Linked DNA regions of Homo sapiens. The protein of the gene in region 1 purifies or fractionates together with the protein of each later gene. This does not show direct contact. Each region holds a gene or a part of one and is shown in the gene's direction. Other genes may lie near its edges. The genes, in order: LZTFL1, BBS7, CEP250 and BBS4.

Evidence for each region.
Region 2: the proteins of LZTFL1 (region 1) and BBS7 purify together in Homo sapiens (affinity purification with mass spectrometry; 5 studies listed by BioGRID and IntAct, with this or other methods). This does not show direct contact.
Region 3: the proteins of LZTFL1 (region 1) and CEP250 purify together in Homo sapiens (affinity purification with mass spectrometry; 3 studies listed by BioGRID and IntAct, with this or other methods). This does not show direct contact.
Region 4: the proteins of LZTFL1 (region 1) and BBS4 purify together in Homo sapiens (affinity purification with mass spectrometry; 3 studies listed by BioGRID and IntAct, with this or other methods). This does not show direct contact.

The regions. Positions count from the first base shown.
Region 1 is NC_000003.12:45,839,096-45,847,126, reverse strand, and holds the start of LZTFL1 (leucine zipper transcription factor-like protein 1), read left to right. Parts: upstream 1-5,135; coding exon 5,136-5,138; exon of another isoform or gene 5,139-5,432; intron 5,433-8,031. UniProt on the Homo sapiens protein: Regulates ciliary localization of the BBSome complex. Together with the BBSome complex, controls SMO ciliary trafficking and contributes to the sonic hedgehog (SHH) pathway regulation. May play a role in neurite outgrowth. May have tumor suppressor function.
Region 2 is NC_000004.12:121,860,446-121,867,476, reverse strand, and holds part of BBS7 (BBSome complex member BBS7), read left to right. Parts: intron 1-4,197; coding exon 4,198-4,260; intron 4,261-5,797; coding exon 5,798-5,973; intron 5,974-7,031.
Region 3 is NC_000020.11:35,514,596-35,519,809, forward strand, and holds the end of CEP250 (centrosome-associated protein CEP250), read left to right. Parts: 3' UTR 1-2,386; coding exon of another isoform or gene 2,387-2,434; 3' UTR 2,435-4,685; downstream 4,686-5,214. UniProt on the Homo sapiens protein: Plays an important role in centrosome cohesion during interphase. Recruits CCDC102B to the proximal ends of centrioles. Maintains centrosome cohesion by forming intercentriolar linkages.
Region 4 is NC_000015.10:72,710,204-72,717,234, forward strand, and holds part of BBS4 (BBSome complex member BBS4), read left to right. Parts: intron 1-2,040; coding exon 2,041-2,104; intron 2,105-5,087; coding exon 5,088-5,199; intron 5,200-6,574; coding exon 6,575-6,647; intron 6,648-7,031.

The DNA.
Region 1 (8,031 bases):
ACCACACCAGAGGAATTAGCTGAACACAAGTTGATGGAGATAAGTGCTTCCGAACCAGTGCCAAATAATGAGAAAGATGTAGAAGTAGTGCCAGAAAACACATTGACATTAGACAATCTGGAAGAATGGTTTCAATTATTCAAGACTGATTTTGACTTCTTTTATGACATGGACCCTTCTATTATGCAGGCACTGAAACATGCAAATGGCGGAAGAAGGACTGGTACCACGTAGAAACATTTTTAGATAAACAAAAAAGAAAAAGTCAGACAGAAATTATGCATTTCCATAAAGTTACACCGAGTGTGCCTTTCTCTCCTGACTCCCCTTCCACCTCCTCCAACTCTTTCTCCTCTGCCACCCGAGACAGCAAGACCAACCTCTCCTCTTCCTCCTCCTCCTCAACCTATTCAAAATGAAGACTTTTATATTATCCACTTCCACTTAATGAATAGTAAATATATTTTCTCTTCCTTATGATTTTCTAGTATTTTCTTTTCTCTAGCTTACTTTATGGAAATAATATAGTATATAATACATATAATGCATAATGTATGCTCATGAACTATTTATGTTATTGGTAAGGCTTCCAGTCAACAGCAGTCTATTAGTAGTTCAGTTTTGGGGGAGTCAAAAGTTATATGTGGATTTTTGACTGTGCATGGGGTCAGCACCATTATCCCTTGTGTTGTTCAAGGAGCAACTGTAAATGCTTGGGCTCAAAATATTAAAAGAAACCACAAAATATAAATTAGTAATTGTTTTATGGAATGTCTTCAAAGTGTAGCATTAAGTCAAAGTAGAACTCAAACAGTAGTTATATAAAAACATAAGGGTTAAGTCATGAGAACTAAATAATTCATTCTCAAAAACTCCTAAAAGTTATATAAATCACCTCAAAGTTACATTTAACATGGGAAACAGGGATAGCTGAATATGTCTGCTGCCTTATGATATGCTTTCCAAGAGAGGGCATGTCCAGGGCCAAAAGCAACCCACAAACACAGTATCTGGAACCCAGTAGGAACTCACAAATGTTTGTTGAGATGTTCCTGTTTATCTCCAATTTAATTCTGCAAGCATAGCTCAGAGCTTCTTATAGCCCAGCCATACTATGTTATTATATAATAAATATTTCTTCCTTCAAGGAGCTTGCAACATAGTAGTTGGGAAGACAAACTCATATAAGCTGGCTAAAAATGACATTTCCGTTTGAGTTCACTTTATTTTTCATATTTTATTTATCCATCCCATTGAGAAAACTTCCAGTCATGAACACAGCTATTCATGACACAGCTATTCAGCTCTTCCAATAGGACTACACAGCCCCAGCTTTGTAGGCAAAACTTTCTGAGCAAATTTAATTTTTTGTTTACATTTTCTATGATGAAATGCAATTGGTGAACACCCTTACATTGCCAGAAGTCCATGGAAACATTTAGTGAAGACCACAGATCTAGGAAGACCCACATTTCTGAATAAGACACTCTTAAAGGTGCTCCATCCTTGTATAAGCTGTCAGTATATCTCTTTTTGTAGTTTGCCACTTGTAATAATAATAAATGTACATCTCTGGACACTTCTACTGCAGCACCTGATGAAAATTCTGGTTCCCTGTCCAAGACAACTCTCAATTTCACAATCATCACACTCATCCCCAACTTTTCCACACTCCTGTTAAAACCTAGCCCAAATTCCACTGCCTTCTGGAAGACTTTTCTGAATCTCTCCTCTCCAGCCTCAACAGAAGTGAACTATCTCGCACCCTCTCTGAACTACCCTACTACTTACTGTCTACTTTGAAATTATTCTGCAAGCTTGAATTCTCCCTTCACTTGATTATAAGGCCATTTTTGAAAGAGACCAATCCCATCTTGTTCATTATTCCCTTCCCCATTGTGTCTTGCGAGTATCCAGATTTCCATTAACAGCTGCTGAATATACAGACTGAGCTTGTGGGTTTAACTGAAATGTATATGCATAAGGGAGTATGGAAAGAGGAGCTGGTGCGTATCATCATCTTTACAATCAATTTTTCTTGTACTTTACAAGAAGGTATTCCCCACAACCAATTCTTAAAATTTTTTGAGGTAGACTTCTCATTTTGATGGTTTCGGTGTTTGTTCCCTTTGGGGTGTTGTTAATGCATTGAGATTATCAGTGAAACTAATCTATCATTTGGGCTAAGTAATTGCCAACATCCACACATTCTTAGAGGGAGTTGTATTTTATGGTGAACCACTTCCTTGCTTGACCTGCTTTAATGCATGTGATAGTGATTTCACTAATCTAGTTTGTCAGCACTCTCCAATACCCTGCTGGTCACTAGGGTGTTTTGAAAGCAACTGAAAATAGCCTCTTGCCTACTTCAGGCCTACTCAAATGCATATCTCCTGTAAAGAGCCCTGTAATCTGGGCCCTTCTCTTCTATAAGGTCTTGGCTACTTTCTCAGCAGCCAAGGTGGGGCAAGATGGGGAAGTTGAAGAGAACTTGTATGGTAGAACTTCATGCAAGAAGCCATGCTGCAAAGATCCTGTCTTCTTAAGAATAATGTCCTAAAATAATTTCCCCTATTTTCCACCTACTACCAGTTCAATATTTATCAAACTTTTCTCTTTCCCATATAACCTTTCAGATTTTTACATTTTCTGTGTATCACCTATTTTTTTTTTACTTAATCATTTTCTTCATTTCCTCTTTCTACTTAAGTAAAGCCTCACCTTAGTCCCCCTGCATCCCCCCAAAATTTATAGTGCAGGGGCAGCTGGGGCTTTCTGAGTCCCTCCACTTCTTCCCTCAGATTTTCCCCTCAGATTTTTTCCTCAGACTCACTATCATGGCCACAGAACCTTGCACACAACAGGGGTTCTGTAAATAGTGGCAGAATGAGTGAATCTGTTGGCATCCCTGAGGAGGCCATGATCAGCTTTCCATTCCTCCTTTTGCCAAGTCTAGGTTGCAAACACCCTGAAACTGGTGGTCTTAGTATGATGACTGGGAACTTATAAAGTCATAAGTCTCATTTCATAATAATATAAAAAGAATTTATCTTCATTTTATTTATGTTGAACTCTGCTAAAAGGTAAAAAATGGACTTGTGTGCCTCCCTCCAAATTTACACACACACATACACTCACACATACACACATTTTAAAAAACTGTCACAGCAATTAAAATAAATAAAAACAGAGCCTAAGAAGATCACTAGTAAAGTAGGATGGAGCTGTTCTCCCTCACGGCTCGAATTGTTTGCTTTGGTGACCAACCCGCACTAGTAAACAACCTGAAGTACAAGTTCAGCCTTTTCATGAGCCAAATTCATCACTTTTGAGACTAAAATTCATGTTCAGATTTGCTGACACTATTTAGACAGCTTATGTAACAACACTCAACTCTGTTGGGTAGATTGGCTAATGGTGATTAACCTCCTTGGTATAGAAGATTTTAGATTAAAGCAGAATTTTAAATTACAATAACTAGCTGATGGAGTTTTGCAGAACAAATTTTAAAATCCCCAAGCCACAAATGTAATATTTGCATTATACACACGCTCCTTTCATTCCCTTGAATTGATAACACTTCGCAATCACAAGATTTGGCCTGGGAGAAAATAAACGAGCTTTTCAGCAGTGCAAGCTGATGACCAACTTTGTTTACTGATCAGTCATAAAAGTTTTTATGAACTTCATCTCGCACCCACAACACCTTGTAAAGTGACCCTCTCACTATGTGAACACAACGAATGTCTACAGAGGAAAGAACCACGTATTATGAGGATTAACTACTGGAATGGAATGTGTCTATTAATAGCTCATAGTAGGCACTAAATAATGGCAACCAAATTCAACAACACTCACTAAACAGAAATGGGGAGGTGGGATGGTAAAGGGGAAGTTTAACTGAGCTTGGAAGGGGTTAATATTCAGGGTTGAGAGAATCTGCCCTTAGGAATCTTTCAAGAAGACAGGGATCCTGCCCAAATGCCATTGCAGTGCCAAGGGTAGGGAGCCTAGCCAAAGCTGAAGTTGGGCATACCCACGCCACTGCCTTCAGGCCATCATTCCGTGCATTGGAATGCTCCAGGTGACACACAGGAGAACCTTGTTTACTGTTCTTGACCCAAGGCTTGAGATCCTTCTGTGGGCAAATGCCTGCACATCACCTCTGTATCATGTGAGTGAAGGACTCTGAGTCCCTGGTATTTGCAATAATCGATCTCATCCTACACTTGTCCTTCCAAGCCAGTGTTTCTAAGAGTGGTCCTGATCTGTGATCACTCCTGGAACATCGGTTAAAAAGTGCAGATCCCAAGGACCCAAGCTAGACTTGTGAATCAGAATTTCTGGAGATAAGGCCCAGGAATTTGTTCAACAAGCTTCCATAGTAGTTCCAGGCATATGGAACCTTTTGAAATTCACTGCTCTCGGAGAAAACCCATGCTTTTTGCATTTTTTTTAAATGGAAAAATGTTGCTAGAGACTTTTAGCTGGAAATATAAGAGAAGATAATAACAACACAGTAATAATAATGGGCGGAGTCATGGGGAGGGGTCGTTTGAAGCTCTATTTGAGAACCTGCTGGCATTGGTGTTGTTGGCCTGTCTCAGCCACCCTGATGCTCAGGTAGGAACTCCTGAAAAAAAAAAATGTCTGGGCCGCGCCCTATGAGACCATTGAAAGGTCTGGGATGTCCATTCATCCTTGGGGTCACCTATGCCACAGGAAGTTCTGGACAAGAACTTCCCAACAATCCATAAGCGGACGCCACGAGGCGCGAAGCGCGTTGGTGGCCACACGCAACTCCAGGCAGCCCAACCCTCCCGCTACCTTCTGCAACTGCAGTCAGCTCCCAAAAGTGAACTGGCACAAAAAGGTGGGACTTCCGGCCCTGGAAGCCAATGCGCATGTGGCAGTCAACCGGTTACGCAATACTTCCTGTCGCGTGATCCTGAGGACCAATGAAAATGCATAATTGCAGTCCACGTGCCTCGGTTTCCGTTAGCAACCAGAGGCTTCTAAACAACCTACCCTCCTTCCCCATTTTCTGTGGTCCAACTACCCTCGGCGATCCCAGGCTTGGCGGGGCACCGCCTGGCCTCTCCCGTTCCTTTAGGCTGCCGCCGCTGCCTGCCGCCATGGTGAGTAACCGACCCTCAGGCGCCGCACCGCGCACAGGAGAGAGCGCGGCCGGGGCTGGAGACACTGAGCGGGTGGGCCCGGAATGATTACGTGGCCTCGTTGGGTCTGGCCGCACCTCAGCCTCCCTGAGAAGGGGAGCTGCGCCGGGCGCGAGAGATTCGGTTAACCGCAGCCCAAGCCCTTCTGGGGTAATCCTGGGTGAAGCCTTTTCCCAGCAGCCCAGCTCCGCCGCATCGCTTCGTTTCTCTCCTGCCTGCGGGGGCTGGAGCCAAGGCACAACTCTTAGGTGGCAGGTGAGGAGAGATAGAGGAAACTGCTGCCGGCCTAAGGTGCACGGCAGGGTTCTTAACTCTATTTCAAGAAGCTCCAAGTTTACGCACACACACACATTAACACATACGCAGGGTTCTCACTCAGTTTCAGGAAGCTCTAAGGTTTACACAGACACACGCGCGCGCGCGGTAACCAGAGGAGCAGGGAGAACGAATCCAGCTTTCTGTGTGATTGAAATCCAACTTTCTGATGTGGAGGTGACTTTAAGAATCCCAGCACCCCGTATTACAGCTGAGGAATTTGGGTGACATTTCCTTTGTTTTGGCTTGCTCAAAAAATATCATTAATCCCTCCAGCGAATATAGCATGCCATCTTAAATACCAGTCATACTTAGAACAGTGCACAGCACTGAAATGTTCAGGAAAACGGATGAAACCAGGGTTGAGAGCACCACCTGAAATAGCTACTGAAATACTTCAGCAACCAGAATTTCTATTTAGTCCACACTGTGTTCCAAGCGCTGTCTGGGAGCTGAGAAGACACCTGTGAGCTAAACAGATTGCTCCCTCCCCTTCTTGAGTTTAGAGCCTCTCCACTCATTCTCTTGATTTCCCTAAAATATCAGGAGAACACGTTGAAAACAAATCACAAAAAAATTGGTATCTCTTCCTGTTCTATCTTCTGTCATTCCTTTCCATCAGTTAACAACTGAGGCTTTGGAATCAGGCTCAGGTTCTTCATTAGTAAATTGCAGATAATAACTACACAAGACTGTTAATATGATAAGTAAGATAATGCGTGTAAACAGTGCAGTACCTGTGAAAATATTAAGCATTCAGTATCTGATAGGTATTATTAAACTGTGCTCATTTTTATCATTACAGTTTCCTCCTTGTACTTATCTTAAATTGTATATGGATTTGTGGGCATGGTTAAGAACAGGGAACCCTTTCTGGTACCTTACCCATTTCTCTTCTATCCCCTTCCCCCTAAACACACATACACAATTTGTGGTACAATTTCAAGACACTAGCTTGGCAATGCTCTGGCAGGATTTCTTGCTGTATGTTTTCAGCTCTTTTTATTATTATTTTAACGGAATATTTCTACAATAAAATTCAAACAAATTCTGACTTCCCCACTTGGATACCTCCCATTGTTTCTAACCATTTTAGGACTGATCATCATATCTACCTCTCATTTAGCAGATAGTAAAACTAATGTCATTGGGGTTAAGTGACTTGGTAACAGACTGTTACCAAGGTAGATAGTTGCATAGCTAGACCTAAACCTGGTTTCTAATCCAGTGCTTTGTCTATTATACCACATATCTACCTATTCCATTTCCTCTCTAATGATTTGACATAGATACATATAGTATATGTGTGGAAGTAAAGGTTTGTGAATAGCCGTTTCCTAGGCTGATGCTATTTTTCCTTTTGAACTCAGCTGTCCACTTTTACCCCCTTTCTTCATTCCAATCCATTTTAAAGGAACTTTTCTGTCATTTACCCTTCTCAGTTTGAGTAATTTTTCCTTCTTGGTCCTGGGACAGTCTTAACTTTCCTTGAAAGGAGGGAAAGGAATGAACAGATAGGAATTGGCCACCTGCTGGCACAAGGCACTATGCTAGGTGTTGTGCATTATAAGAAATGGTTCATGCCCTCATAGAGTTTACAATCTACTTGGAAGAGCAAGACCTGAAAAAAAAGATAATCAATAATACGAGGTAGTAATCAGCCTGTGACGGTACCAAAGAAGTAGCAGAGATTATATATGCTAGGTTTTGGAGGAAGGCATACCTATAGAGTTACTGAGGGCATATTGGGAGATGGCACAGAGTAGGTGAAACAGGTTAGGCCATGAAGGGTGGGTAGGAATTCAGTGATGTGGTGGAGCATGTGTGTACTGGCTGGTGAGATCCAATTGTATGCATTTCTTCTTACCTCTTCATTCAGTGACATTATATTGGTGGCTTGAAATCAGCCATGATGGAAGTATTTATGCCATGGAAATCAGCAGTGCTACAAATCAGGCCCCCCTACCTAGAAAACCTGCTGTTAAATATTTACCATCATACCACTGGGTAGGATTCAGATTCTCAAATAGGAATGGAGAGATACTTTAGGATCAGAGTAACATGAGTGAAAGTCAAGGCAGGAAATTTTAAGTCATGTTTCAGGACTGATGAGCAGACTAGTGTGGCTAAAGTAGAGTGTTCATTTAGTAGAATCCTGGGAAACAGGGTAAGAGAGTTTGGGAGGTTTTGGGAGAGCAAAGAGTGTAAATGTAATACTATAGACAGTGAATAATTATTAAGAATCTGGGCCGGGCGTGGTGGCTCACCTCTGTAATCCCAGCACTTTGGGAGGCCGAGGCAGGTGGATCACGAGGTCAGGAGATCGAGACCATCCTGGCTGACACGGTGAAACCCCGTCTCTACTAAAAATACAAGTAATGAGTCAGGCGTGGTGGTGGGCGCCTGTGGTCCCAGCTACTCGGGAGCCTGAGGCAGGAGAATGGCATGAACCCAGGAGGCGGAACTTGCAGTGAGCCGAGATTGCGCCACTGCACTCCAGCCTGGGTGAAAGAGCGAGACTCCGTCTCTAAAAAAAAAG
Region 2 (7,031 bases), on another chromosome or scaffold:
GCAAGATGAATCAACAATTACACATAGTACTAGAAGTCCTAGCCAGAGCAATTATACAAGAAAAAGAAATAAAGTGCATCCAGATTGGAAAGGAGAGTCAAATTATCTCTGTTTGCCGATGACATGATCCTATATATAGAAAAACCTAAAGACTCTACCAAAAAACTCTTAGAACTGACAAATGAATTCAGTAAAGTTGCAGGATACAAAATTAATATACTGAAATTAGTAGTGTTTCTATACACAACAAACTAGCTGAAAAAGAAATCAAGAACACAATCCCAATTATAATAGATAAAAGATAAAATACTTAGGAATAAATTAACCAAGGAAATGAAAGACCTCTATAAAAAAAACTATAAAACACTGATGAAAGAAATTAAAGAGGATACCAACAAATGGAAAAACATCCCATGTTCATGGATTGGAAGAATTAATTTTGTTAAAATAACAATACAACCCAAAGCAATCTACAGATTCAATGCAATCTCTATCGAAATACCAATGTCATTTTTCACAGGAAGAGAAAAAAAATCTTAAAATTTGTATGGAACCACAAAGACCCCAAATAGCCAAAACAATCCTGAGTAAAAGGAACAAAGCTGGGGCATTACACTACCAGATCTCAAAATATACTACAAAGCTGTAGTAACCAAAACAGCATAATACTGGCATAAAAACACAGAGACACAGAGAACATAAAATGGAATAGAGAACTCAGAAATTAATCCACATATCTACAACCAACTGATTTTTGACAAAAGAGCCAAGAACAGCCCCTGGGGAAAGGACAGCCTCTTCAATAAATGGTGCTGGGAAAACTGAATATTCATATGCAGAAGGATGAAACCAAGACCCCCACCTCTCACCCCATATAAAAATGAACACAAAATGGATCAGAGACCTAAATGTGGCCAGGTGTGGTGGCTCACACTTGTAATCCCTGCAGTTTGGGAGGCCAAGGCGAGTGGATCACTTGAGGTCAGGAGTTCAAGACCAGCCTGGCCAACATGGTGAAACCCTATCTCTACTAGAAATACAAAAAAATTAGCTTGTCATTGTGGCAGGCACCTGTAATCCCAGCTACTCAGGAGAGGAAGACTCCATCTCAAAAAAACAAAACAAAACAAAACAAAAAACAAAAAAAGACCTAAATGTTAATGCTTTAGGACATTGGTCTGGGAAAATAGTTAATGAATAAGACCTCAAAAACACAAACAACAAAAGCAAAAATAAACAAGTGGGATCATATCAAACCAAAAAGCTTCTACACAGGAAAGGAAACAATCAACAAGAGTGAAAAGACAATCTATAGAATGGGATTTAAAATATTTGCAAACTACTCATCCAACAAGGAATTAATATCCAGAATATACAAGGAACTCAAACATACCAATAGCAAACAAACAAGCAATCTGATTAAAAAGTGGGCAAATGATCTAAACATTTCTCAGAAGAATACATACAAATGACCAAAAAAACATGAAAAAATACTTAACATCATTAATCATCAGGAAAATGGCAAATCAAACCACAATGAAGTATCATCTTACCCCAGTTAGAATGGCTGTTATCAAAAAGACAAGAAAACAAAAAACCAAAAAACAACAAATACTGGCAAGAATGTGGAGAAAGGAAACTCTTCTGTGCCATTGGTGGGATAGTACATCCACTATAGTGAACAGTATGTAGGATTTTTCAAAAACTACAAATAGGGCGACCATATGATTTAGCAACCCCACTGCTGGGAATTTACCCAAAGGAAAGGAAATCATCATATCAAAGAGACAACTGCAGCCTCATGTTTTATTGCAGCACTGTTCACAATAGCCAAGATATGGAATCAGCCTGGGTGTTTAACAACAGATGAATGTATAAAAAAAAGTGGTATATATACACAATGGAATACTATTCAGCAATAAAAAATAATGAAATCCTGGCCAGGCATGGTGACTCACGCCTGTAATCCCAGCACTTTGGGAGGCTGAGGCGGGCGGATCACCTGAGGTCAGCAGTTGGAGACCAGCCTGGCCAACATGGTGAAACCCCATCTGTACTAAAAATACAAAAATTAGCCAGGCACGATGGCAGGCATCTGTAATTCCAGCTACTTGGGGGGCTGACATGGGAGAATCGCTTGAACCCAGGAGGCAGAGGTTGCAGTGAGCTGAGATGGCACCTTTGCACTCCAGCCTGGCCGACAAGGGCAAAACTCTGTCTCAAAAAAAAAAAAAAGAGAGAGAAGAATGAAATCCTATCATTTGCAGTAACATGGATGGAACTGGAGGACATTATGTTTAGTGAAATAAGCCAGGAACAGAAAGTTGAACACCACATGTTCTCATTAATATGTGGAAGCTAAAAAAAGTTGGTCACGTTAAAGTAAAAAGTAGGACAGAGAATACTAGAGGCTGCAAAGGGTAGAGGGAAGGGAGGGATAGGGAGATATTTATTAAAGGATATAAAATTATAGCTAGATAGGAAGAAAAAACTCAAGTAGTCTATACCACTATAGGATGACTATAGTTAACAATATATAGTTTCAAATAGCTAAAAAGAAGGTATTGACTGATCCTAACCCAGAGAAATGATCAGTATTTTAGATGATGGATATGCTAATTATCCCAGTGTGATCAGTATATGTTATATGTATTGAAACATTGCTATGTACCCCACGAATATGTACAATTGTTGTCAATTAAAAAATAAATGAATAAAATAAAAAAGATAAACCAACAGATTTCTGATTGTCATTTACTGTATTAAGTCTACTAGATTAGCACTTCTCAAAATTTTTGGTCTCAGCACCCCTTTACACAATTAAATGATTGAGGATCCCAAAGAACATTTGTTTATGTAAGTTGTATGTATCAATACTTACTATATTAAAATGAAAACTAAGAAATGCTTAAACTATTTTATTTTAAAAAAATTATTACATGTTTACATAACATGTCTTTATGAAAAATAACTATTTTTCAAAACAAAGAATTTAGTGAGTATAGTGTCATTATGTTATACTTTTTGCAACTTGTTTAATGTCCTGGCATAAGCATACACACATAGATTTTCATATTTGTTTACTGCATTCAATCTGCTGTGCTATGTTGTTTTGGCTGAAATATTTGAAGAAAATCCAGCTTACACAGATACATAGCTGGAAATAAGGAGGGGTATTTAAATAGCTTTTTCAGATGATTGTGACTCTCTGTTTGATACTATGCCTAAACTTGATAAGTAGTAGTTTCTTAAATCAGAGCTCCCAGAGTTTTTTAGCACCAGGAACCAGTTTCGTGGAAGACAGTTTTTCCACCAATGGGGCTGGGATTGTTTTGGGATGAAACTGTGTTCTACCTCAGATCATCAGGCATTAGTTAGATTCTCATAAGGAGCATACAACCATGCGCAGTTCACAATAGGGTTTGTGCTTCTATGAGAATCTAATGACGCTGCTGATCTGACGGGAGGCGGAGCTCAGTCTGTAAATGATCACTTTCCCGCTGCTCACCTCCTGCTGTGTGGCCTGGTACCCAGCAGGCCACGTACTGGAACTGGTCTAAGGTTGTTTGATATCTACTTTTGAGGAAGAAGTGTTAAAATGTCCCTCTATATTTATTTCAAAACAATTCATTGTCTACATGTTGGTAATTGTTGAAACTAGGTGATAGGCACATGATAATTCATTATAATATTTTGTGTACATTTTCATACATTAAAATTTTTCTTTTAAAAAAGGTGTTTAAAATTATTAAATATGTCAGTCACAACTTTATTTGATAATCTGTTTTAAAAGTTAATCTTAAAATGTTCTTATGCTCCAGTTATGAAAAAAAAATTACTTTGTAGGCATTTCTGTCCATAACTGTTGTCTGGCAGTATACCTTCGTAACAACCTGCATGTGGACTCCCAGAACCTACAATAAAAGTTGAAAAAAAGCAAAACAAAATATATTGTGTTGTCCTATTAACATTATAGGAACAAAATCTATGGCCAATTACTTTTCTAATGACTCTCCATATCCTTCTCTTTTGGCTCTTGTTCTTTTGAGGATTATTTTTTGTGGGGGTGTCTTTCCTAGATTTTCTGATCTCTATTAAGTCAGTATTTATAAATTAAGAATCTTGCTTTCCCTGTATATAATTATTAGGTCATAATATTAATAATAGTAATTTTAGATTATCTTCCATCTATTACAGGTGGTTATTGGAGATCATGATGGGGTAGTTATGTGCTTTGGCATGAAGAAAGGAGAAGCAGCAGTAAGTATAGCTTTGTGAAGGGGAAAAATGGTTTTCTAAAAGAGAATGCACTATTTATTGAATAATACTAGGTTAAAAATTTCCTAAAATACAGGTAATGGAAAATGGGTTCTGAGGTAAGTAGTTATGTGAGATATGAGTCTGCGGGTAGCACAAAAGTAATTTGCTAGCTAGTTGTAAGGCACCTTTGGCATCCTGTGGTCGTGGGTTACTTTTCTATGCTGTGTAATATATTACCCCAAATTTAGGGCCTTAACACAACACACATTTATTATCTAACAGTTTCTGTAGCACAGGAGTTTGTGCTCAAGGTTTCACACAGCTGCAATTTAGATGTCAGCTGAGCTGTGTTCCTTTCTAGAGTGTGGGGTCTTATTCCAAGCTCATGTGGTTGTTTGCAGAATTCAGTTCCTTGCTATTATAGGACTGAGGTCCCCACTTTATTAACATCTGTAAACCAGGGGCTGCTCTCAATTCCTTGAGGTCTCTGCAATTTCTTGCTCTGTGGTTCTCTTACAGTCCTTCTCACAACATGGTAATCTAATTCATCAAAGCCAGCAGGAAATTTCTGTAGTCTGCTAAGAAAGAATCTTATGTAGCATAATGTAATCATGGAAGCAACTAACCCACAACCTTTTCCACTTAATTTAACCTAATCAAGGAAGTTATTACTATTACATTATCATATTTACAGATCATAATTAGAAACTTAGAATGATGAGTCTGAGATGTGAATTCTAGTATTCATTATATATTATATGGAATTTCCAGAAAGATGAAGAGAATAAAAACTACCAGAAACTCAGTGTTTCCATTATTCATATTCTCCCAGATATCTTATTCTCTGTATATAAAGTCATGGGGAGGAAGTGGAGGAGAAGAAGCTGGTGCAAATAATAAAATGGAAAATAACCACAAAAAAATTAATGAAATGAATATTGTTTTCAGTTAAATAGATATATGATTATAGGTATTAAGTCATACATTCACATTTTCAGTAAATTCTATAGTCCTTTAACTATTAAAATTTATAAAAATTGTAAAGAAGCCAGGAAAGATTAGTTTTAAAAGATGATTGAAGTGTAAAAACATGTTCATTGGACCTCATTAAAGAATTTGCCAAATGGACTTCCCTGTTCGTAGGAGTATTGTTAATCCAATGCCTCTAAAACTTCAGTAGGCATAGGAACCAGCTGGGGAATCTTGTTAAAATACAGATTCTCATTCAGTTGATCTGCTGCATTTTAAATAAATTTAGTGATGCTAACATTGCTGCTTAGTGAACTGTACTTTGAATTACAAGGATTTAGATTTCAATGACATCATTCAAATATGTGTGGGAATATATATTTAAAAGTTAAGTATAGCAAAAAACCTGAAGACCTGCTGAAGTATATAGATTATTATCTAAAATTATTTCTATATAGTGGAACTATAATATTTTGCAAATTTAACATCATAACATTTTCTATTGTAAAGGAAAAAATGCTCACAATAAAGTAATTTGTGTACTTTTTTCCTGAATGATTTTTTTCAGGCAGTGTTCAAGACTTTACCCGGGCCGAAGATTGCAAGGCTGGAACTGGGAGGGGTTATCAACACACCTCAGGAGAAAATTTTTATTGCTGCAGCATCTGAGATTAGAGGCTTCACAAAAAGAGGAAAACAGTTCCTCTCCTTTGAAACAAACCTCACTGAAAGCATTAAAGCTATGTATGTCTTTTGTTCTCTTTTGTATTTTTACATACTTATTTATAATATTTTGGATAGATGTGAGGCAACTAAGTATCATATCTTAATAGGCTTTCTGGAAAATAAAATTAACTAAAGGTATTTTATTAGTCAGAAACTAAATTTGACCTACAATCAATATTAAATTGGTTGTTGAAATTTTTTTAAAGAACTTTATAGTATTTATACAATCATTTTTGACAACTTGGTTCAGTTTGATTCATGATCAAGGTATCAAAAAAATTGAAAATAAATCTAGATATTTAGCTTTATGTTCCTTGGCTATTTTTGATAGTTCTGGTTTTCAGGTAGCATCATTATGTTAAAAGGCTGGCTGTCAAAGTTAGTGATTACCAATAGGGTATAATTTCAGGTATATCAGGTAAGACTCTAAGTGAAATATAGCTCCCTAAATGGCTGCCTGATATGTGAGATTTTGCAATTCAGATTTGAGTTTTTGAATCACAGGGAGCTGAAAAGGGCTTTAAAATTCATCTAATTCATTATTTCTTATATTTGCTACTTAGAAGAATCCCTTGGGCCACTTAAACAATTCCTTGTCCTACCTCATACCTGCCGAATCAAAATAACCAGGAGTAGGTTTTATTTTTATTTTTTAAGTTCTTCCTTTGAATCTAGTGCAGCCAAGTTATATAATCAGCCAGACTCTTAGGCTAGAAACAACTGATTCAGCCCAAAGTTTTGTATAATGCACAGCACATCTCCTGATGTTTGGGATGTAAAACATTGGCTTGGTGAAATTAGATTAAAATTAAACCATGATAAGTGGAAATATGTAATTTCAAATGGTTTAACAAGAATAGTAACACTTTTGAAATACACTTGTATATAGACATGGCCAATGATAATTATGGAATACTGAAAGTAATGTGTTAATAGCATAACTCTACATTCGGACAGTTATATGGATAGTAGTGTGAGAAAGATAGAGAGTTTCTCAGTAACAGTCTCTTCAAGTGGTTTCTTAAATGTTTTTACTAGAGTGGCAAAGATGGGATAGAAAAGTTCTTTACTCAATT
Region 3 (5,214 bases), on another chromosome or scaffold:
CTTCCCACATGGGACTGCCAGCACCCTGAAGGCAGAAAAACTGAATGTACCCGTTAAAGGAGGAGAAGCTGGTGGTGTATGTTGAGATAAGGAGGGTGGGGAGTGTACAGTTACAGGCTGCACAGGGAGGGCAAGATCAATGTTGACACCAAAGTGCCAAAGGCTGTCTGCGCCAGGTCTGGGGCCCCCACTGGTCATACCGCCTGATAAAACCATTGCAGTCCACACTAGGTCTGGAGGCTTCGACACCCACAGCATGTGGGTGTTCTCATGCAGGCCATGAGTATTCGGGGTGCTTTAAGTGCAGGGGAGTTCTGTTGTCCACGTTATTCTTAAAGCCCAGAATAGGCCCTGTTTTATTCTACAGAGATAGGAAGGCACTGGGGCTCACAGAGTGGTGCTGCTTCCCACCCTCACCCTTCTGCCCCCACCTGAGCACAGTGTGGTGCTCAGTGATGGTTATCCTATATTCCAAATACGCATGGCCCAGGACTGGCAGAGTCGGAGCTCGGGGTCTAGCTGTGACCTGGGGATCGGTTGGAGTAGCTTCTTGACCAGCCGGAATTGGGTTAGGTGTCCTAGCATTGGTGCCTATGGAGAAGAACACAGACTGTTTATCACTCACCCCTGGTTCCAGTACCAAGGAAAGGCTGGAGCCATTGCAACTGGAGGCCCAGCGGAGGAAGGGATCAAGAAGAGGATGCAGCCCAGAGCCCAGGACCGAGCATCCACCGGCCTCTGGAGATGGCGTGGTCTCCAGTTGCATCGGGGCTTCAGGGCCCATCTGAAGTGCTGATCAAACCAGGCAGACACACCATGCTGGTGAAGGCAGGCTTTGTAGATGCGGGGCTGAATTGAGCAGCCACAGAACCTCTGCAGCTCTGGGGCCAGTGGCAGAACTTCTAGAAGTACCTGTGGGGTGGGAAACCCCAGCCACAAAAGCAGTGAGCTGACTTCCAGGCCTGAGGCTTTGCCTGCAGGCCTCATCTCAGCCCATGGGACAGATTCCTGGTTTTTTTAGTTTGGCCTTGGGGTAGATGATACCTTCAGCTGTCCACCCTGCAATACCTCACCTCCTGCCTTCTGACCCAGTACTCTGCAGAGCGGGGGAATGGGGCCAGGGGACAGGGGCAGGGAAGAGGAAGAAGCAAGAGCTGCCAGTGTGCTCCAAACCAAGAGAGCCCTCCACATGATTCTGGGCACAGCTGAGGAGGAGTGCAAGCTCAACTCTGCTCACCACACTTAAGAAGCAGGCAAGGGAGGATGAAGGGCAAAAACATGGGGTCCTGAGGCCCTTTTACTCCCTCTACCCTGCTGGAGGTGAGGATGAGAGGTGAGACTTCGTTGGACTGTGCTCCTGGCCAGTTGATCTCACCCAACTCATTACATCAGTAGCCTGGTCACAGGGTGGACACTCTGACCTCTTCTTAGCCTTTCATTGGCAATACTACCAGCTCTATATATGCCCTTATAGGGCCTGAACCTTGGCTCAGGTGGATGGGCTTGGAGGTAAAATAATTGAATGGGTCAGGGGTAGGAGGAGAGATGAGTCTCTGCCAAGGCTGTGTGATGTGTCATCTGAGAGAGTGGGTAACCCCTATTCCCAGCACATGGCCATTTATTTAGAGCCAGGGAGGGGGACGAGAATTCATATTCAAATGTGATTCTTTCTTAATTACTACCAGTTGTTCAGGTGAGGGAATCAGGGAAGGCCAGATTAATAATCCACACATTGCCCTTGCACCTCCTGTCTTGGTTTCCTATCAAAACCTCTCCCGTATCTATGAACATTCCAGCCCTGCAGGTCAGATTGCTGGCCAGGAGTAGTCTCACATTCTAGCTGACTGATGGCCTCGGCTTCTGCTGTTGTATGTGGTTTGATGATTCATGCTGGAGCCTTTGGCTATAACTCTCTTCCCTGTATAAGGGCCATCTGAAGTTTGTCTGCCTGACTCCATTACCTGGTGAATGAGATTGGCTAGCTGCTGCTCCTGCCCCAGCTATTCAGTCATTTGGCAAATACTCATTTAAACAAAGCTCCACAGGGATCTCTGAGAAGGAGCTCACCTCTAGGCACACAGAACCTGGACACAGATGAAAGTTTGCAGAATGACCCAGTTGTGCAGAAGAGACCCACTGGCTGCTCTCAGTGAGGCCAGGGAGAGTCAAACAGAGCATCTTGGACAAAGAGAGGGCTTGAAGGCCCTTTCAAAGTGTCAAGCCAGTTGGATGCACGGGTTGTGTGGAGTCCAGGGGTACATCCAGAAGCAATGGCAGGTGTTATCCATTCATTCAGGTTAGACCTCTGAGCAGACGGCAGAAACGTCAGCCACAGGTGAGCATAAGCTCAAACCCCCCCATTGAAGGCTACATTCTTGTCCCACAGGGCAGAGCACATGGCAAGTGGCATGCTGACTCAGACACCGGGCACTGAGAAAAGTGGGAAGCCATGGTCACAGACTCTACATTCCCCTCTCCTGTTGGCCTCCATCCCTTCCTCAACCGTCCGCAGAACACCTCCTTCCAGCACCTTAGCTCCTGCCTCCCTCTGGACCTATTCAGTCCTCAAGGGTGCCCTGCTAAAGGCTGGGCTGAAAGCTAAGAGGAGAGGTGGCATTCAATGTGTCCTGTGTCCTCCCTGGGGTTGATTAAGGGGTCGATGCCCAATAGAGTCCTTCATCTTGGTGTTCAGCCCAGGGTCCAGCTGCCAAGGGAAGGCTTGGCAATCAAGGGTGATGGAGATAAGAATGAAAAGGGGCACCACCCTGTGCCAAAGCTGGCATGTTGTATATCTGAGAGAGGAGCTGCCTATTCACAGTGTAGGGTTGTCAAGCTGGAGGCAGGGAGAGAAAAGCAAGAGCTTTTTGGTTCCTCTTGAGGATAGAATCTATAGGAAAATGTAAGAGGGTTAAAAATAAATTTCCCATGCATCCAAACTTTTTTCTTTGGTAGACTTTCTTGTCATCTATTTAAAATGAAACAAGTGCATGTACGTGGTTAAGACATTTTAGCTAGGAATGATGGTGCGTGCCTGTAGTCCCAGCTACTTGGGAGGCTGAGGCAGGAGGATCGCTTGAACCTGGAAGGTCAAGGCTGCAGTGAGCCGAGATCATACCACTGCACTCCAGCCTGAGTGATAAAAGTGAGACCCTGTCTCAAAAAAAAAAAAAAAATTAAAGAAGTTAAACAGTGCCGGGCTTGGGGGCTCACGCCTGTAATCCCAGCACTTTGGGAGGCCCAGGCAGGCAGATTGCTTGGGCTCAGGAATTCAAGACCATCCTAAGCGAAAAAATATAAAAATTAGCTCAGTGTGATGATGTGCCTGTAGTCCCAGCTACTCGGGAGGCTGAGGTGGGAGGATCACCTGAGCCCAGGGAGGTCAAGGTTGCAGTGAACCATGATCATGTCACTGCACTCACTCCAGCCTGGGCAACAGAGCAAGACTGTCTCAAAAAAAAAAAAAAAGGAAATTAAATAAAAAGAAGATAGCAGTTTCCCACCTCATTCTTCTCAAACTCCTCTTCAGAGGCAGCGGGTTTTGTTTTTTTTTTAACTATGTTTTTCTACTGGCTCACTTTATTCCTCTAAAATAGTAACTTGTCTATGTGGTGCCATAACGGGTCCAGTATCTGGACACGAGGCCGCACTACCTACACCTTTGGGGATTCTCGGATCCTGACTCTGAGCTACCTCATTCCTAGACACCTGGTGCACCACAATGTGTCAGGGATGTCGGTTTATGTGGGATATTTGCATTTTGTTAGGTTGTGTGTGGTAGTTGAGCAGCCAAGGGGGTAGCATGCGGTGGATATTTGTTTTAGATACACAGTAACTGGAAACTCATTTACTGAGGCTATTTGGTTACCCTGAACTACTGTTTCTACCAAAAAGGCAGGATAAATGCTCCCTCAACACACACCTTTAATTACCAATTTTCAGAGTAAGGGGTTGAGGTAATAGCCACCGCCAGTTTTCCCTTTCTCTTTGAGTATCATTATGAGCTCAAAGTTTTTTATATATTCACTATGATTCAATCATGACAGTTGCTATTTTTGATGCTCAAATTGCCGCAAATCTAATGTCCAAGTGTTCTTGTACTTGTCTAGGCCTAGAATCTTTTAGTGAAGAAAAAGTATTTAGAAGACAAAAATCAGGCTGAGTGCAGTGGCTCACGCCTGTAATCCTAGCACTTGTGGGAGGCTGAGGCAGGCGGATTGCCTGAGCTCAGGAGTTGGAGACCAGCCTGGGCAACATGGTGAAACCCCGTCTCTACTAAAATACAAAAAATTAGCCGGGGGTGGCGGTGTGCACCTTGTAGTCCCAGCTACTCAGGAGGCTGAGGCAGGAGAATTGCTTGAACCCAGGAGGCAGAGGTTGCAGTGAGCTGAGATCGCGTCACTGCACTCCAGCCTGGGTGGCAGAGCAAGACTCCGTCTCAAAAAAAAAAAAAATACGAAAAACAAAAAACATAATCTGGATTGCAGGGCTGATCGTTGCTAATGGAGTGTTATGGCTGTTCAGATGACAGAGGGAGAAAATGTACTTTGTAAACTGTTAGTTCAATGAGGTTATGATTGCACAACAATGTGAACATACTTAATGCCACTGAACTTTATTGCCATTGATAACTTTTAAATGGTAAATTTTGTGTATTATTTTGTCACAATAAAAAGTTTGAAAATCGAGTTCATAATATTTCCAGTTTGGGCCGACCACGGTGGCTCATGCCTGTAATCGCAGCACTTTGGGAGGCTGAGGTGGGTGGATCACAAGGTCAGGAGTTCGAGACCAGCCTGACCAACATGGTGAATCCCTGTCTGTACTAAAAATACAAAAATTAGCCGGGCGTGGTGGTGCGCGCCTGTAATCTCAGCTACTCAGGAGGTTGAAACAGGAGAATCACTTGAACTCGGGAGGCGGAGGTTGCAGTGAGCCGAGATCGCGCCACTGCACTCCAGCCTGGGCGACAGAGTGACACTGTCTCAAAAAAAAAAAAAAAAAAAAAAAAAATTCCAGATTGAATTTAATGTCACAGAGTTTTTAGCCTGTCCACCTGCCCAATTTTGTATTGTTTCTTTTTTTTTTTTTTTTTTTTGAGATGAAGTCTCACTTTGTCACCTAGGCTGGAGTACAATAGTGCGATCTTAGCTCACTGCAACCTCTGCCTCCCAGACTCAAGTGATTCTCCTACTTCAGCCTCCCAAGTAGCTGTGA
Region 4 (7,031 bases), on another chromosome or scaffold:
TTTTTTTTTTTTTTTTTGAGATGGAGTCTCACTGTCACCTAGGCTGGAGTGCAGTGGCATGATCTTGGCTCATTGCAGCCTTTGTCTCCCAGGTTCAAGCAATTCTTCTGCCTCAGCCTCCCCAGTAGATGGGACTACAGATGAGTGTCACCATGCCCAGCTAATTTTTTGTATTTTTAGTAGAGATGGGGTTTCACCATATTGGCCAGGCTGGTCTCGAACTCCTGACCTTGTGATCTGCCCGCCTTGGCCTCCCAAAGTGCTGGGATTACAGGCGTGAGCCACCGTGCCCAGCCCTGAGTTTTATTTTTTAATTTCTCTCTTACTGCAAGGTTGATCATCATGTGTATATTTAAAAACCATTTGTATTTCCCTTTCTCTGTATCTTTGGTGACATACCATATGTGTTACAAACTTGCAGGCAGACAGTGGTAGTACTAACATGCAGAATGTATCCTTGGTGTCATCTTTTTTGGTATCCAGAGCTTTGTGACCCATCTAAGGTTTTTAATTTATACCCATGGCATTTATACCTATGGCAATGCACAGAACTAATTCATACTGGTATGACAAAGATTCATACCAGTTTTTTTTTTTCTTTTTTTAAGTGGAGTTTTGCTCTTATTGCCCAGGCTAGAGTGCAGTGGCGCAATCTCGGCTCACTGCAACCCCCGCTTTCCAGTTTCAAGCAATTCTCCTGCCTCAGCCTCCCAAGTCGCTGGGATTACAGGTGCCCGCCACCATGCCCAGCTAATTTTTTTTTTTTTTTTTGTATTTCTAGTAGAGGTGGAGTTTCACCATGTTGGTCAGGCTGGTCTCAAACTGCTGACCTCGTAATCCACCTGCCTCAGCCTCCCAAAGTGCTGGGATTACAGGCGTGAGCCACCGCACCCGGCCCATACCAGTTTTTTTTGACACCGCTGATCCGAAGGCAGATACCAGTATGAATCTTTTTTTTTTTGAGATGGAGTTTTGCTCTTGTCGCCAAGGGTGGAGTGCAATGGCGTGACCTCGGCTCACCACAACCTCCGCCTCCTGGGTTCAAGCGATTGTCCTGCCTCAGCCTCCTGAGTAGCTGGGATTACAGGCATGTGCCACCACGCCTGGCTAATTTTTTGTGTTTTTAGTAGAGATGGGGTTTTTCCATGTTGGTCAGGCTGGTCTCAAACTCCCGACCTCAGGTGATCTGCCCGCTTCGGCCACCCAAAGTGCTGGGATTACATGCGTGAGCCACCGCGCCTGGCCACCAGTATGAATCTTGAAAGGTTCTCTTTCTTTTTCATCTGTGATAATACTTGGAAATCTTATCACACTTTTCTTAGCTTGCCTAGTTAGATTTTAGACAGGGGTTGGCAAACTTTTTCTGTAATGGGCCAACAATATTTTAGGGTTTGTAGGCCACATACAGTCTCTACATCATATTTGTTATCTTATTTTTTATAACCCTTTAGAAATAAAAAAACCACTGTTAGCTTGAGAGCTGTACAAAAATATACAGGGCCTGTAAGCCCTGTAGTTTGCAAATCCCTGTTCTAGAAGAAGTAATCACAACAAGGGAGTTGAAATTTTAAGAAACTGAATGAACTAATACTTTACTAGGCATTATTAATACTCTAGGTTTTTTTACATATGATTCTTGTCCACGTCTGCTTTTTCATTACTATTTGTTTTCTTTTTTTTTTCAGACAGAGTCTCACTCTGTTGCCCAGGCTGGAGTGCAGTGGCGCTATCTTGGCTCACTGCAACCTCCGCCTCCTGGGTTCAAGCGATTCTCCTTCCTCAGCCTCCTGAGTAGCTGGGATTACAGACACGCACCACTACTGCCCGGCTAATTTTTGTATTTTTAGTAGAGATGGGGTTTCACCATATTGGTTAGGCTGATCTTGAACTCCTGACCTCATAATCTGCCTGCCTTGGTCTCCCAAAGTTTTGGGATTACAAGCATGAGCCACCGCACCTGGCCTGTCCATGTCCACTTTTTCTTAAAGACACCTGAAGAAACTTAACCACTGCTCAGAAGCATTTTTCTCCCTCTTTCAGGCTGTTATCAAAGAACAGCTTCAAGAGACTCAGGGATTGTGTGAATATGCTATCTATGTCCAAGGTAAGACACATACTTCTTGTCTTCTTGCTAGAGAAATACACTTTTCCTAGGTTCTTGAAAAAGATCAGGCAATTGAAGAAACAAGTTCAAGTACAGTCATGCACCACTTAACAATGGAGATATGTTCTAAGAAATGTGTTGTTAGGCAATTTTGTCATTGTGTGAACATTACATGGAGTGTACTTACACAAACATAGATGGATGATATAGTGTACTATACACATGATATAGTCTGTTGCTCCCAGGCTACAAACCTGTATGAGCAGGTGTTATACCGAATACTGTAGGCAGTTGTAAAACAGTGGTAAGTGTATCTAAACATAGAAAAGGTACTGTAAAAATATGGTATAAAAGATAAAAAATAGTATACCTGTATAGAGTACTTACCATGGATGGACTGGAAGTTGCTCTGGGTGAGTTAGTGGTGAGTGAATGTGAAGGTCTAGGACATTATTGTATACTAATGTAGACTTTATGTTGTATACTAATGTAGACTTTATAAACACTGTACACTTAGCCTACACTAAATTTATTTAAAAATATTTTTTCTACAATGATAAATTAACTTTAGCTTACTATAACTTTTTACTTTATAAACTTTAAAACTTTTTGGCTCTTTTGGGGTAATACTTAAAACACACAACAACATTGTACATTTGTACAAAAATAGTTTCTTTAGGTCCTTATTCTATAAGCTTTTTTCTTTTTCTTTCTTTTTTTTTTTTGGTAGAGAGACAGAGTCTCACTTTGTTGCCCAGGCTGGTCTTGAACTCCTGGGCTCAAGCAGTTCTCCTGCCTCAGCCTCTCAAAGTGCTGGGATTATAGGCATGAGCTACGACACCTGGCCCTTTATGCTATTCTTAAAACTTTTTATTTTTTTACTTTTAAACTTTTTTGTTAAAAACTACGATACACACACTACTACAGTGGTGGTACTAACATGTGGAATGTGTCCTTGCTGTCTTTTTTGGCATTCAGAGCTTTGTGACCCATCTAAGGTCTTTGTGACACACACACACACACACACACACACACACACACACGCACACGCACGCACGCACTGGTCTAGGCCTACACTGAGTCAAGATTATAAATATCACTGTCTTCCACCTCCTTATGGAAGGTCTTCAGTGGCAATAACATACATGGAGCTGTCATCTCCTATAACAATAGGAATACCTTCTGGAATACCTCCTGAAGGATCTGCCTGAGGCAGTTATTCTTTTTTTTAGTAAGTGGAAGGAGTACACTCTAAAATAAAGATTAAAATGTATAGCGTAGTAAATACATAAACCAGTAATGTAGTCATTTATTATCAAGTATTAAGTTCTATATATATGTAATTGTATATGCTGTACTTCTATGTGACTGGCAGCACAGTAGGTTTGTTTATACCAGCATCACTACAGATAGGTAAGTAATGCATTGCACTGTTTTGATTGCTATGACGTCACTGGGCAATAGGAATTTTTCCTCTTCATTATAATCTTAAGTGATCATCATCATTTATACAGCTGTCGACCAAAATGTCATTACAGGTGCATGAGTTTAAATGTTCCAGAAAGGTTTTATTCAGTATTAATCTTTTTATGGAATCTGAATATAATTACTGTGTTGGATTTGACTTCAGAAATGACTAGTAATGTTAAAAAATTGCTATGATTACCCATTTTTTAGTTTCTGGCTAGTGTTTTTTGGAATGGATGCTTAGGATTCCTGCCTAATGCAGTGATTTCAGGGCCAAAAGATGCTTTTGGAAGGATTGCTTGTAATCAAGCTAAAAGAGATGAAGAAGAGCTTGAGGATTTCTGTAAGGTGAATCAGGATGAGGGGAAGAAGCCTGGAAATAAACAAGATAAAGCAGAGCATAAATTCAGCTCATTAGAAACCAAAGATAAGGACCACTCACTTACTTTTTTTTTTTTTTTTTTTTTTTGAGACAGAGTCTTGCTCTGTTGCCCAGGCTGGAGTGCAGTGGTGCGATCCCAGCTCACTGCAACCTCTGCCTTCCAGGTTCAAGCGATCCTCCTGCCTCAGCCCCCCTATTAGCTGGGATTACAGGCACATGCCACCATGTCCAGCTAGTTTTTGTATTTTTAGTAGAGACAAGGTTTTGCCATATTGGCCAGGCTGGTCTCGAACTCCTGACCTCAGGTGATCCACCTGCCTTGGCCTACCAAAGTGCTGGGATTACAGGCATGAACCACTGCACCTGGCCCACTGACTTAAATTTTCCTCTTTAGTGGCATAAGTAGCATTCTTAGTTTTTCCAGGAACTTTCTTTTTGACTCTTGGGTGTAAATAAATGGTTTTGTTTACCATTCATTGCATTTGTAGTCTTCAGATTAACATATAATTTTCTGACATAATTGTTAAGATATTGACAAATTTAGGACATCATGGCAAAAAATGCTCTTATTCCCAGTGTCACAAGTATCAGACTTTCAGTGCCTGATAAATTCTTCTGGAAACATAGGCCTAGGAAAAACCTCTGGTTCTAATTGGTTGTTACACTGACAACTGAAGTCTTAAATGTTACTTTATCCTTTGCCAGAATCTCCATGTTGAATTTGAGGTATTGATTCCATTTGCCCCATTTGGGGGTTCGCTCTGAAAACTATCAGTTGGAAGTAAATTATGATAAATGAAGCATCTGATGGGGAAGCCCCAAAATGTTGTTAATGTGAAGAGTTTGTGTGATAATTTGCAAAGGAACTGATTATCTATGTGATGGATCCTGGGAGTAGAGAGAGAAGTAGGTAGGTTTGAGCTACCTTGCTAAAAGACAGTTGAGCTTGTCAGCAGTTTTGGTTGTTGTTTCAGCCTGTCCAAAGCCATATCTGATTGTTTTAAGGATACAGTTGTCCAAAGGATTTACTTGATGTGGTTTCCCAGTTTTCTCTTCTCCAATTTTTCTGACCCCAGGCTCCATTCTTCCCAGAACATGGTTTTACTTTTTTTTGTATTTTCTGTTTCTTGGCAGCATTGATATTTCGCCTAGAAGGAAATATCCAAGAATCCCTAGAACTCTTCCAGACATGTGCAGTTCTTAGTCCTCAGAGTGCTGATAACCTCAAGCAGGTGGCCAGATCTTTGTGAGTATTGGCAACCTGGAGGCCCTAGGGCACTCACAGAGAACAGTGTAAAATGCATTCCTAGGTCCAGCCTGCTGCTGGCAGCTGCATCAGCCTGATACACAAGTGGGGGAATGGTTTAATAGGTACAGTGGGATTCACTCTGAAGAGCATGGATTAAGTTTGAAATTTGAGAAAATGAGATAACTAGTGTTAAGGAACTAAGCATTTTAAACACTGTGCATTCTAGTTTGATGGGGGACCAATATTGTTTATCATGTAAATAGAGACACCTTGTACCCTAAGTCTTCTAAACTTATTGGCAATCCTTGGAATTTTTCTCATCTACTCTTCTAACACTTAGTATTTGTCACACAGTAAGTTTTTAGTAAGGACAGAGAGTTCCTGACTTCTGATGGTTCAACTTACATAATTTTTCAACTTTACAATGATGTAAAATTGTTATGTATTCAGTAGAAACTGTACTTCAAGTATCCATACAGCCATTCCGTTTTTCATTTTCAGTATAGTATTCAGTAAATTACATGAGATATTCAGCATTTTATTATAAAGTTGGCATTGTGTTAGATGGTTTTGCCTAACTGTCAGCAAATGTAGTTAAGAAAGTGGAGATAGGAACTCCATGGAACAGAGTAAGTGTTCTGAGCATGCTTAAGATAGGCTAGGCTATCTATGATGTCTGGTAGAGTAGATGTATTACATGCATTTTTGAATTACAGTGTTTTCAATTTACAATGGGTTTACTGGGATGTAACCCCATCATAAGTTGAGGAGCATCTCTATTTGTTGAGTGAATGTCCTAAAGATTCCTAGATGGAAAGAATCTCAAGTGTTTATAAACTACTAGGTACTCCCTTTTCAGTCCTTTGTTCCATGGAGTTCCTATCTCCCCTTTCTTAGCCACATTGCCATTCATACCTGTGTTGTTTTTGCATAGAGCTTGGTTTTCCCTGTTTCTCTCTAAACTCAGGATCCAATATCAAGGAAAGAGACTTAGTCTTGGAAGGAAAGGATGTGTCCCTAATGGGTGATGATAAATGATGGTAGTTACTGCTTAACATGGTATATCATTAGGCTTATTTCTTTTTTGGTCTGCATTTATAGTACATTGTAGAAGAAAAATTCCACAAGACTCTCACTAAAATTGGTATAGAATGAGACCAAGGCCTTGGAACAGCTGCCAGTGCAATCCCTACTAAGAGAGCTTCTGCTGTTAGTGTATAGCAGCTTCACTGACCAAACCAGCACAACCACCTCATAGAGAAAAGGCTTCTAGAATTCTCTGCTGGATGAAATATGATTAAAATGTGGGACTAGTAGGGTTAGTCTTCTAAGAATTTTGAGGTAATAATTATGGAAAATATATCTTTTACAGATTTCTTTTGGGAAAACATAAAGCTGCCATTGAAGTATATAATGAAGCAGCTAAACTCAACCAGAAAGATTGGGTAAGTAGAGAACTTTCAGTTCTTTCTTATTAGTAAACTTGCTAATGGTTCCATTTATCATCTGGCTGTCTTATTTCTGAATTCTTACATTCCAAAAATGTCTTGATTTTAACCTCATACTTAATTCATGATTTGTATAAGTATAGGATCAAAAACCATGTTTCCTCATAACTTTGCAGGCATTGCTGCATGATTTTCTAGCAGTTTGCTGACGAGCAGTCTCTTACCAGTCTGATTCTTGTTGATGACCCCTAGAAGCTTTGGGTATTTTTTTCGTCATTGGAATTCCACAGTATCAGCAATAGGCATCTAGTTGTGTTTCATGTCTTTTTCCCGTCCCCATCTGTGTGACATTCAATTGACTCTTTCATTCTGAAGACCCTT